3 linked regions of the Homo sapiens genome follow. The protein of the gene in region 3 interacts with the protein of the main gene of each other region in a pairwise test. Each region holds a gene or a part of one and is shown on either strand. Other genes may lie near its edges.

Region 1 (3,645 bases), on a different chromosome or scaffold from region 3:
CACACACACACACACACACACACACACACACACACACACATATCCCTGAGGTTCAGCAGGGATCAGTGGAAAACAACTTAGAGGAAGTACAGCTGTTCCCTCTGAGGAGCGCTCGTTGGGGAAGCCAGGCCTAGGAAGAGGGGGTGTTCCTGGGCGGTGGCCTGCAGCCTTCCTTTCACTGAGGCATCCGAGCCCAAGGAGCTGCAGTCTCCCCTTGGGAATATGACATAACCATAGGAGGAAAGGGCCTTGAAAAAACAGACCGGTGTCCACATGTCCTTCGGCACAGGAAGCCCTGTCCCATCCTGTATGCGGGAACTCCAAGATCTGCCAACGCTCTAGCATCACCTCGTCTCCTGCCAGACAAATACCCCAAAGCCAGCGATCTGATAGGATGTGTTTATATTTACACGGTACATTTTAAAGCAATGGCTACATTGGTCATACATATTAGAAACCATAAAAAAAAGTTAAGAACTAAAATGTACATCATACACTTGTATATATATTTTTTACACAGAGGTAAAAAGGCTTATTATAAAAAAATCAATACAACAGGGTTTTTAGTATACAGGTAAAGAATGAATTATGCTTCAGGCACTTTAATTTGTTAATGTGAGCAAATAGCTTGGGGGGTCGGGGAGGCTTCTGGACAGAAAATCTTTTGGTTAATGTTTTGTTACCACAGATACAAAAATAAAATCTGAATAATTTCTCTCAAATGATTGACGTCAGTATGGCAAAGCTGACTGGGAAAATACTACACACTGTTCAGCTGCAGTGTGGCAATTAGAGACGTATTTACATAAATGTCCCCATGGCTGTCTTTGTGCCCTTAACCGATGCCTTCACAAACCAAAAAGTATACGTGGAGTAAGATCTGCTAGCGTAACTCTTAAAAGGGTGGAAAAGGACAAGGGGTGAAAGAAGAGAGAAACAGGTAACAACTAAATAGAGGTGACAAACAAAAAACAGCTGGGATATGTGCGTTCTTATTGAAATAAATAGGGGCACTTGAACTGAGGTCTAAGGAAACGAACATTAGTGTTGTGCTTTGTAGAGAAGAGACCCTAGAGAAAGACCCCAAGGAAGTGCCTCCGGGTCGGGGGAAGGTGGTCTCTCGACAGCACTGGAGGCTGGCTGAAGGTTTTCTAGATGTTCTCCAGGCATGGATGAGGTTCTCTTTTCTTCCATCAATCCAGATGGACAGCTCTCTGCTCCTTTTCCAAACTGGAAAGCCTAAACCAGTTACTCCAATGAATGAAGACGTCTACTAACTGACTCATAAGCACACTGGGTATTTACACCGGTAATCTACTAAAGAAAATCGATGAGCTTGTGGACGAGCTGGAAACAGCCCCATGAAGGTGAGCACAGCTAGCACTTTCCCAATATGATTGGCAGACTGGAAAAAAGTCCCTTTCCTTGAAGACTGGTGTCCTGTGTGCAATAAAGAAGGAGTGGGGAAAGGGAGTGGGGAGCAGGCCATGTCTTCTGCTGGCCGCTACCACAGAAAGATCGTGGCGGGAAGAACAGCCGGCGTCCGCAAGCCTGTCCCCGGTGGTCTCCACGAGGTTCTGATTGTACTATGCTAGGTATAGGTAACCACTCTTCACTTTTCTTCTTTCTTCAATAAGAAGATTTGGCTAATCCTTGCAACGTATTAGAAAAATACTCTTTTCCAGCTAATTAGAAGCCTCCTCCGTGGCAAGGCGACAGGCAGAACCAGTTGGCTGACCTAACCACCTGTGCACCCAAAGTGGCGAGTCTGGGTTTGGAGTTGCAGGAGAAAGACACTTAGGCATTGGAAGGGTTTTTACATATGGCCTTGTTTTTTCCCCAAGTATAAATGAGGAATTTGGTGATGTGAAATTGAGTCCAAAATGAAACGAAAACATAAACCCATGAAGAAAATGCAACCCACCACTCTTCAAATTTATGACATTTAAAAATCCCCTCTCCCCATTAATATAAAATAGCCAGGGGTTGGGGGGAAGAAGCTCCCTATGGTTTTATTCACCATAACCTTAGTGTTTCTCAACTGGAACTTGTTCGTGGGAACACTGATTTGTGTTTGAGGAAACTATTTGGTTTGCAAAACAACAAGCAAAATTTCTTACTTCACTAGTATCCTATTCTAATATTGCTAAATTTTTAGAAGTGGTGGCAACACAATTTAAAAAATGTTCTACTTTAGGGGTAATGGGGAGGCTCATAGAAACCTGAAATCCCCATTCTAGCCCTGGTCCAAGAGGATGCAATGCAGTTGAAGGAATTTTCCTGATTCTCACAAGTTAATCTGAAGTTAAGGCTCAATTCTCAGTCTATTACGGGTGAATGTTTTGCATCAGTGAATCATTTCAACAGATTTTGGGGGGGCAGAAAATGATGATGGGCTAAAGATAGAAACTGCAGCTTACATGGGAAATTTGGCTTTAGAAAAGTTAAAGCGATATTGTTTTGTGGTACAAGTTTGTTAACTAGCTCACCTCCTATACATAATAACTGACTGCAGGCTGAGATACTTCTGTCGGGTTTCATCATTCTCACATCCCATTTCCGCTGAACCAGATGCTTGCTAGCGACAGGCAAGGTGAACCAAGAGAAAGAGAGTCTTCGACGCTCTTGGAAAAATCAACTACAAAACCCACCGAAAATCAGCAGTTCCAATTGCAGACTCCTTTGAACTGGAAGAGGCGGGGGAGGAGGAAACAGGAAATCAACACATGGATGAGACAGTTAGCTTGGTTACAGATTGTTAATAGTACAGGAGTCTGTGGCGAAGGTTCCTTCCTCAGAACACTGTGCGAGCGTGTGTGTATGGATGTGGCTGCTGCAGTGTGGGCGGCAGGGGGAGTGGAGAGTCTACCCGGCAGCGTCCCTGGCTGGAATGGTGCCTCGAGGTACCAGGGAGCTGGGAGGCCGCTTGCCCTCCTCGCTCCTTGGAGTGGAAGGGAGCGGGGGAGAAGATGAGAGTATGTAAGAGACGAGTTCCCCTGTGGCTGCGGATGGAGGGAGAAGGGAGGGAAACTGAGTCACGCGGCCGCTTTGTGCTTCCCGCCACAGCACCTGCACATCACTCCGCAGTGGTAGCAGGCCCGAAGGGGCAGGTAACAGCACATACAGGGGGCCAGGAAAGACAAGGCAATAAGAGCCATCCACCGGAGGCAAAACTTCTCGTCGCTAGTATCGCACGAGCAAGGGTCTGTATAGTCTCCCTCGGGGTCCGACATACAGTGATAGAGCATGCTGTCCGCGCACCACATGCAGCTCACCCGGCGGATGCAAGTTCTCACGGAGTCGGGCGCGTCCTGGCAGTGGCCCCGGCGGTTCTCCTCGTGGTTGAACATGTCCCTGCAGTACACGCACCGCGAGCGCTCTCCGTCCTCCTTCCGCCGCCGCGACTTGCCCCGGGAGGGCTGCGTCTTGATCACGCTGCCCCCGCGGCCTTTGGGGTCCTCGCCTAGGCCAAAGTCTGAGGAGTCCACGTAGGGGTAGTTGTAGTCATGCTTGGGGACCTCGCCCTTGGCGAAGCGCACGTAGGAGGAGTCCGCGTCCTCCGAGGGGTCCGGGTACTTGCCCCTGACGGGTGCGTGCCGGTAATCCTCGTACCCCGTCATCCAGATCTTCTCCCGGGGGTTGATG
Region 2 (4,360 bases), on a different chromosome or scaffold from region 3:
ACATGCCTCCTGAATGGCATCAAAAGTGATGGACTGCCCATTGCTGGAGAAGACCTTCTCTCCTACTGTCATTATGGAGCCCTGCAGACTGAGGGCTGAGAGCAGAGGAGTCCAGGTCAGGCCACTGACCACTTTGTCTCTAAGCCACCTCCCTCACCTAGGGTCTCTGCTACCAGATTCTCCCCAGTCTCTCCATCTCTGCCTCTCTCTGTGTCTTCTCTTCCTCTTCCAATTGCAGTTTTCTAAATTCACTTTTAGACTCTCCTCCATTTATTCATTCATCTAAGTAACAATTACTTATTGCCAGAAATGGTGCAATTTCCTAGGATTCAGTGGAAAGCAAGACAGGCAGAGAACTTGCTTTCTTATGAAATGGGGAGTGAATTGTGTCTGCTTGTCTCCTCTTGGCCATTCAAAGACATCAGAAAAGCAAGCATCATTCCTTTCCCCAACACCTGCATGTGCACGCTTGTTTGTCATCTCTATTCTAGAAGGTGGTGCTGAGAATGAGGGGAATTTGTGGGAAACTCCTACCCCGTGAGGCCCAGGGGGTCCCCTTACCTCCCCTTGTCTGCAGGATTTGATGTCTGAAGTCGTGGAGTGTGGCTTGGAGCTCCTCATCTAGATGAGCTGGAAGCCCTGTGGAGAGTGCCCCACACAGAAGGAGGGGCAGGCCAGTGAAGACTCCCACTTGCTGCCACGCAGGCGTTTTGCCATCTGCAATCCTGGAACTCTGCCCTTTCATTGCTGTTAGGCACCACCCAGACCCTAGGCTCAGAGGGTCCACGAGATTCCAGTGTGTCTCCACACCCCGTGGTCCCCTATTCTTTAGTGAAGCCTTGCCCCTGCTGAGACCCCCACCCCTTGTCCTCTTTCCTGCTCTGTCCCTCGAGGGGTTCTGTCTGCCCGCCTCTGTGGGGCAAGTCCCTCTCCCGCACCCTCCACCAAGGGCAAGCATGATGCTCTCTGCACTGCCCTGATGGACTTGCTTACCGCTCTGAGCTTCAAAGTTCCCCTCTGTCTGTGGGGCTCCTGATCACACCATCTGCCTGGATGCCTCGTCCGCATTCACCCTTCAGACTGCCCCCAGGGCCTCCATCCCAGGACATGCCTCCCCTGCCTCCCAGTGCTGTCCCTCGTCCCACACCTGACTCAGTGTGTCCCCATCAGCGGTCATGAGGCACGGAGGACTTCCCACACCTGCCCTTCTCTGAATTGTGACCACACTCCCCAGACACCTCGGCTTTCTCCCTCAAATTCATATTCTCTTACTTAGGTTGAGCCAAATGCCCTTGGGGAACCTGCAGGGTTTGTCTGACCCCCATCACCCCTGTGTAACTGACTTCAGGTCGCTGTGCCCATGTTTCCACTGCCCACCTGCCCCGCCCTGCTCACCTGGAGGGCCTCTCTCGCCAGCCTCCCCCTTCTCTCCACGCTCTCCAGGGACACCAGGGGCTCCAGGCAGCCCATTATTCCCAGGAGGACATGGTGTTTCTCCAGGCGGACCCATGGGGCCTGCAGAGAAAAGAGACATGGATGTGTAGGATCTGTCACCCACAACTGGTTGGAGCTAGTGAGACTCGATGCCCATTATCACCGGGGCTGGCTCAGCTATCACTCCGTGGGCACTATGAGGACAGACTCTCCAGGATGCGCCATCATAAGGGCCCCAGGAACCCACCACCCCTGCAGACTGAAGTCCCACCCAGCTTACTATAGCCCCCAGCTCACTATGGCCCACAGCCTAGGGGCCTGGACAGATGGGCCTCCTGAAAAGGGGTCTGTGTCCCTCAGCTGAGGGTGGGGTCTGCAGCACAGTACCTGGAGGGCCAGGGTCTCCTTTGACACCATCTCTCCCGTCCCTGCCTGGCAGGCCGTGGGATCCAGGAGTGCCGGGGATACCAGGGCTTCCAACACAAACGTCCTTCACTTCGCACGCAGCACCAGAGGCTGCCATCAAGATGAGGGTGAGGGCCAGAGGGCACAGCCACATGGCTCTGGGTCCAGTCGCTGCTCCTGCCGGAGGGATGGCCGTGAGCCCATCTGCCACCTCTGCCAACATCTCCCCCACTGTGCTCTGTCAGGACTCAGGAAGCTGGGCAGAGCCCGAGAGGCAGGGCGGGCGAGACCAGAGTGCTGGGAAGACCCGAAGCACCCGGGAAAATTCCAAGCATCACCTGGCACCTGGCATGGCCTCATGCTTCAGGCCTCCGGCTGGAGGTTGTGGGGTCTCAAGACTGCTGAGGAGGAGGAAGAGTAAGGAGCTCTGGGGAGCCCAGGGACCTGGGCTCCAGTGCAGTCTCCTTTCTTTCAGTGCCTCACTATGTTACCCTGGGAAACTGGCTTCACCTCTCTGATTTCAGCTGAATCTTCCATGCTCTGCAGAAAACCTGCCCTGTCCCTCCCAGGCTGTTAGAAGGAAGGATGAGGTCACTCACTCACTGACTCACTCCATCTGTCCCTCATATGCCCAGTTACCTTCTTTTCAGGCTCCAAGAAATCAGCGACCTGAGAATGAAAAGAGATGAATAGGGCCCACAGCCTGGACCCTTCAAGGTGATCATCGGGGGGTGATGACCCTCTCACAGTCAGTGATGAGGTCTTCCTTCCTCTTGGGGTCTGTTCTCCCACTCCCCCTGCTTAGGCCCTGCTGAGTCCCTGGTAGGGATGGATCTGGCCAAGGAAGATATCAAAGCATGAGGGTCTTTGTAGGTCATCCATGTTGACCATGCTGTGAAACACCTCCCAGTGGAAAATGGGGAGTTGCCCTCCTTCCCAACCTGGGCCTTGGTCAGGCCTGTGGCTGCTGGGCTGGTCCTCTCTGCCTGCGATCCTCAAGCTGGAGAACACCTAGGGGATGTGGCTAAACTCACCCACACACAGAGCCTCCAGCTGCTTGGGTCTCTGCCTCCAAGTTAGAGCATAAAGGTGGACAACAGAATTTATAGCATGTGGGCTGCCAGGCTTCTTCCCCACCCCTGAGAGCTCTACCACAAAACCTGTTCTCCAAGCAGGAAATAGGCATAGTGTTTACACAGCACATTTCCCTGCAGAACACTCAGGCTGCAGGAATACTTAGGACCCTTGAGGGGAGCACAGAACCTGGTAAAGAAAAATACCAGGTCTGTAAGAAGAGAAATGCCTCACTGGCTAAGGTCACCCACTCTGCACTCAGGGAGCTCCACTGGGTTCCTGGTTTAGTTTCAGACAATGAAGAAGTCACTGCTTCAGCTGAGGTTGGTCAGGTTGATCCAGGCCAACCTGTCTGCCCTGTAACCTTGCTCAGCTCTGAGCCCCAGGACCCCCAGCCAGTGTCTCTGGAGCCTGCAGCCGAGTTGGTGGGCACATGGACAGAGTGGCAGGCAAATATGCTGCACGTTCCACTTCCCTCTGCCCTAGCAGGTTCAGCTGGAGGAGTCAGGGCAGCACCTGGAAGGTCATGGGAGAGCTGCAGTTTCTGTCTTTGGTAGAACATCACTTTGGGTGATGTCTGGCAACCTGCAATGGTGATTATGCTAAGTGTCCCAGTGATATATGAAGCCCTAGTTGTTAGGGTCCTGGTTTGAGCATCTGGATTAGGAGGGAATCTCCAACTGTGGAGGTGGTAATGATGGGAACCCAGACAGGAAAATCTCCCCTGGCTTATTTGGAATTGGTTTGAAAAATCCCAAACCATTGAGGAGTTTGGAGCTCTTCCAGGGAGCGGAAGCTCAGACAACGGACCCCACTCCCAGGAGCAGGAAGCTGGGCAGTGCCAATTTGTAGCATGGAGTCTTTCAGCTGCCCCAGTGCTGTCTGCCACACCATGTGGTGGGTGCTGGGCCAGGTGTGGAATGGGGGAGTCAGGCCAGTGCAGGTTGGGGGCAGGTGGGGCGAAGCTCCAGCAACTTGGCTGTGGGGAGGCAGGGCTGTTTTGCAGGTGATGAGCAGGAACAGAGGCCAACTTGGATGTGCAGGGCCTTGTGGTTGGCAGGGCAGGGCATGGCTTTAGGGGAAAGGCACACCTGAGTTTTGACCCAGAGCTGTCACTTATTAACCAGGTGGCCTTGGTCAGTTTCATTTTTCATTTTATTATTCTGAAACAACATCAAAATTACAGAAAAATTGCCAGTATCGTACGACTTTTTTTTCCCCTGAACCTATGAGAGTAGGTTGTCAACATGAAACCCCAACACCCCAATACTTTAATGTGTTTTTCACGCAAAGGCATTTTTGCATTATAACCGTAATCAAGAAATAAACACGGATACAATAACTCCAAATAGCCTTCAGGCCCTATGCAAAATGTACACAATGCCCCAATAGTGTCCTTTATAGCAAAGGATCCGTTTCTGAGCCATGTGCCTTATTCGGTTGTCAC
Region 3 (3,645 bases):
AAGGCTGCCAAACCACATGAGTGAGCTTGGAAGCAGGTCATCACCAGCCAAACCTTCAGATGAGACCACAGCCCTGGCCAATGGCTGACAAGTATCCCAATTTTCCCGGGACTGAGAAGTTTCCTAGAACAGGGAACTTGCACTGCTAAATCCAGGATAGACCTGGGCAAACCCTATTGACAGCTGAACTGCATACTCCTGAGAGTCCTTGAGCCAGAGGCACCCAGCTTAACTGTGCCAAATTCCTAATGTTTGTTCTTAAGCTGCTGTTTGTGGTAATGTAATATGTAGCAATGGATAACTAACCTAGCACATCACAAATGAGCACATTAAAATGGGTGATACACTTATAACAAGGCATTCAACGTCACTGCTTATCAGAGAAATGCAAAGTAAACTTAGAACAAGTTATTACTCCATACTCACAAAAATGGCTAAAATTTGAAAAGACAGAAAATACCCAGTGTTGGCAAGGATGTGGAGCAACTGGAACTCTCATACACTACTAGTGGGACCGCAAAACAGCACAACCACTTTGGAAACTGTTTTCTAGTAACTACCAAAGCTAAATATTACACATATCCTATGTCCCAGCAATTCTACCCTTACATATACACCAACAGCAGGCATCCACTGGTTCACCAGGACGTGGACAAGAACGCTGATCTCTGGACAATACCTTGGACGTTATTCACACCCACTCCCCGCAGACTACATTGAACACTCCACAAAGAAGAGGCAGGAAAAAAGGGGAGAAGGGAGGAGAGGAGAAGGAAAGAAGGGAGACAGCTCTCTACCAGCAACAGGGGCCTCTGCCAGGCGTGCTATCATTCTGTGACAGCTAGGAGCTTAGTTAGGTCTTCAACCGGCTGCTCAGAGAGGGGATAAGAAATTGCTCTCCCAGGTCCCTGGCCCTGGTTGGGAACTAATTTTCAAAGTGTCTTCCACCCAGGACAATTCTTTTCTTTTTTTTTTTTTCTTTTCTTTTTTTTTTTTTTTTTGAGATGGAGTCTCACTCTGTTACCCAGGCTGGAGTGCAGTGGCACGATCTCGGCTCACTGCAATCTCCACCTCCTGGGTTCAAGCGGTTCTCCTGCCTCAGCCTCCCAAGTAGCTGAGACTAGGTGCGCACCACCACGCCCGCCTGATTTTTGTATTTTTAGTAGAGACGGGGTTTCACCATGTTGGTCAGGCTGGTCTTGAACTCCTGACCTGGTGATCCGCCTGCTTCAGCTTCCCAAAGTGCTGGGATTACAGGCGTGAGCCACCGCGCCCAGAAAAATTCTGTTCAAGCAAACTCGCAGGCTGATCTGGGTCTATAAAAATGATCAAAACAGAGGAGCTCTGACCAATTTGAAGGCCCCCCTTCCAGCCTCCTCCTCCCAGCTATGTCCCTGCTAGGCTGACCACAACACCCCCAGAGACCCAGGTAATTACCTGCCAACCGTAGGTGTCCTGCTGCTGGGTTTTCACCCCTGACCCATCCCAGACCCACCCCAGGCCCCGAGTCTGCACTCACCCAGCTCCAGCCTGGGACTATACCAGCCCGTCGTAGAGGGACAGCGCCTGCACAATGGACGGGTCTGCCTTGGAACCCTCCTGGAACTCCTGCAGGGTCAGCTTCCCGTCGGCATTCTGTGAGCAGAGAGAGGCGGCTGAGGGTGCAGGGCCTCCCAGGAGAGGGCTCTAGACAAGCCCAGCCCAGGGCCGGTCCCAAGAGCCCTTCCAAGGTTAGATCAGGAGGGAGGCAACGTGGCTCAGGGCCTACAAGCAGCCAGCACCAGACAGACCTCGGCACTCATGGCAGGGTGGCCTTGGGCCGTGGCCCACCTCTCTGGGCATGTTTCTTCACCTGGGGATGGAGGGTAATTACCTGGCTTCCTCCAGGCACTCGGGTGACAGCTCTGTGCTTGACCAACTGGAAGTGCCCTGTAACTCCACACGTGTCATGGTTAATGCTATTAAACCCCATCAATGTGAGTAACTGACAAGGCTGAGAGCCTCGTGCAGTTCTCTGGGGTCACTCTTGGAAGGGCATTTAAACTGCTCCTGGAGCAGCCCACACTGGACCCTGGGAGACCCGGCAGGGGGCTGGACATGGCTCAGAAAGAGGAATTTTAGTGGGTCTCTCGGGGAGGGGATGTTTGGGCCAGAATCCCTTCCCCGGAGCATCTCTCAAGGAAGCCGGCGGACCACAAGGAAAAGGCCACGGAGAGCACCTACTCGATCTCGGGTATCCAGAGAGGGTAAGTGCCGAAAACAGCGCCGATGAGCACAACCGAGCTGTGCTCAGGGATCGCTCGCTGCGTACACGACATATGCCAAGCTCGGCGCAACCCTCAGTGTATGGAACCCTCACGGCCAAGCCAAGAAGGGGGTGCTGCTCTCATCCCCATTTTACCAGTGAGGAAGCTGAGGCTCCGTCACCTACCCAGGCCCCAGGGCTGGGAAACGGAGAAGTCAGATTCACACCCCAGTCAGTGTGACTACAGGGTCTGTGCTGTTTCCCAAAATGACGGAAGTGCAGACAGGGGGACAGTAAGGAATGTGCGGCCTTGGCCTTAAGCCACGTGGACGCACACCACGAGAAACTTATTATTCCGTGCTCCACACTCTGTCGATAAATCTTTTGATCATTACCAAGACGCCAGCTGGGTCTGAGGCCAGCACGTCTCTACCACTCCTCTAACATGGGCTAATCTCCCTTTTTTAATTAAGAAAGTACAGGCCTCAGGTCAAAGCTTTTAGGGCAAACAGCTGTCTCCAGCCAGAATCTAATAAGCAGCCCTGCGTTACAGGAATTTCTATGATTGACTGATCGATTGATTGATTGAGACAGGGTCTCACTCTGTCACCCAGGCTGGAGTGCAATGGCACCATCACGGCTCACAGCAGACTTGGTTTCTCAGGCTCCAGCCATCCTCCCACTTCAGCCTCCCGAGTAGCTGGGACCACAGGTGCACACCACCACACCCGGCTAATTTTTGTATTTTTTGTAGAGTCGGGGTTTCATCACGTTGCCCAGGCTGGTCTCAAACTCCTGAGCTCAAGTGATCCACTCGCCTTGGCCTCCCAAAGTGCTGGGATGACAGGTGTGAGCCACCGCACCTGACCATTTTATGTTATTTTGCTGAAGGCACGTAACACCTGGATTTCCCTAACGTCATTATTTCAAATTTACATTTAAGTTATTTTAGTTTTAAGTAAGTTTGATTTAAAGAAGGATTCCTTATTTCTTTGGAGTCCCTTTTTTTAGGCTTTTATTTTAGGCTCAAGGATACATGTGCAGGTTTGTTATATAGGTAAATCCTGTGTTGTGGGGGTTTGCTGTACAGACTATTTTGTCACTCAGGTGATAAGCATAGTACCTGATAATAGGTGGGTTTCGATCCTCACCCTCCTCTCACCCTCCACCCTCAAGTAGGCTCCAGTGTCTATGGTTCCTTTTATTTTATTTTTTTTCTTTTGAGACAGTCTCACTCTTATTGCCCAGGCTGGAGTGCAGTGGTGTGATCTCGGCTCACTGCAACCTCTGCCTCCCAGGTTCAAGCAATTCTCCTCCCTCAGCCTCCCGAGTAGCTGGGATTACAGGCATGTGCCATCATGCCTGGATAATTTTTTTTTTTTTTTTTGAGACTGCGTCTC

What was found.
Region 1: the proteins of NCS1 (region 3) and SPRED2 interact in binary tests that used the Homo sapiens proteins (3 or more experiments, as listed by UniProt).
Region 2: the proteins of NCS1 (region 3) and SFTPA2 interact in binary tests that used the Homo sapiens proteins (3 or more experiments, as listed by UniProt).

The regions. Positions count from the first base shown.
Region 1 is NC_000002.12:65,310,466-65,314,110, forward strand, and holds the end of SPRED2 (sprouty-related, EVH1 domain-containing protein 2), read right to left. Parts: coding exon 3,036-3,645; 3' UTR 386-3,035; downstream 1-385. UniProt on the Homo sapiens protein: Negatively regulates Ras signaling pathways and downstream activation of MAP kinases. Recruits and translocates NF1 to the cell membrane, thereby enabling NF1-dependent hydrolysis of active GTP-bound Ras to inactive GDP-bound Ras.
Region 2 is NC_000010.11:79,557,491-79,561,850, forward strand, and holds the start of SFTPA2 (pulmonary surfactant-associated protein A2 isoform 1 precursor), read right to left. Parts: upstream 2,918-4,360; 5' UTR 2,874-2,917; exon of another isoform or gene 2,781-2,873; intron 2,509-2,780; 5' UTR 2,479-2,508; exon of another isoform or gene 2,467-2,478; coding exon of another isoform or gene 2,439-2,466; intron 2,382-2,438; exon of another isoform or gene 2,200-2,381; coding exon of another isoform or gene 2,178-2,199; intron 2,020-2,177; coding exon of another isoform or gene 1,994-2,019; coding exon 1,822-1,993; intron 1,516-1,821; coding exon 1,396-1,515; intron 640-1,395; coding exon 562-639; intron 96-561; coding exon 1-95. UniProt on the Homo sapiens protein: In presence of calcium ions, it binds to surfactant phospholipids and contributes to lower the surface tension at the air-liquid interface in the alveoli of the mammalian lung and is essential for normal respiration.
Region 3 is NC_000009.12:130,224,379-130,228,023, reverse strand, and holds part of NCS1 (neuronal calcium sensor 1), read right to left. Parts: intron 1,636-3,645; coding exon 1,537-1,635; 3' UTR 1,520-1,536; intron 1-1,519. UniProt on the Homo sapiens protein: Neuronal calcium sensor, regulator of G protein-coupled receptor phosphorylation in a calcium dependent manner. Directly regulates GRK1 (RHOK), but not GRK2 to GRK5. Can substitute for calmodulin. Stimulates PI4KB kinase activity.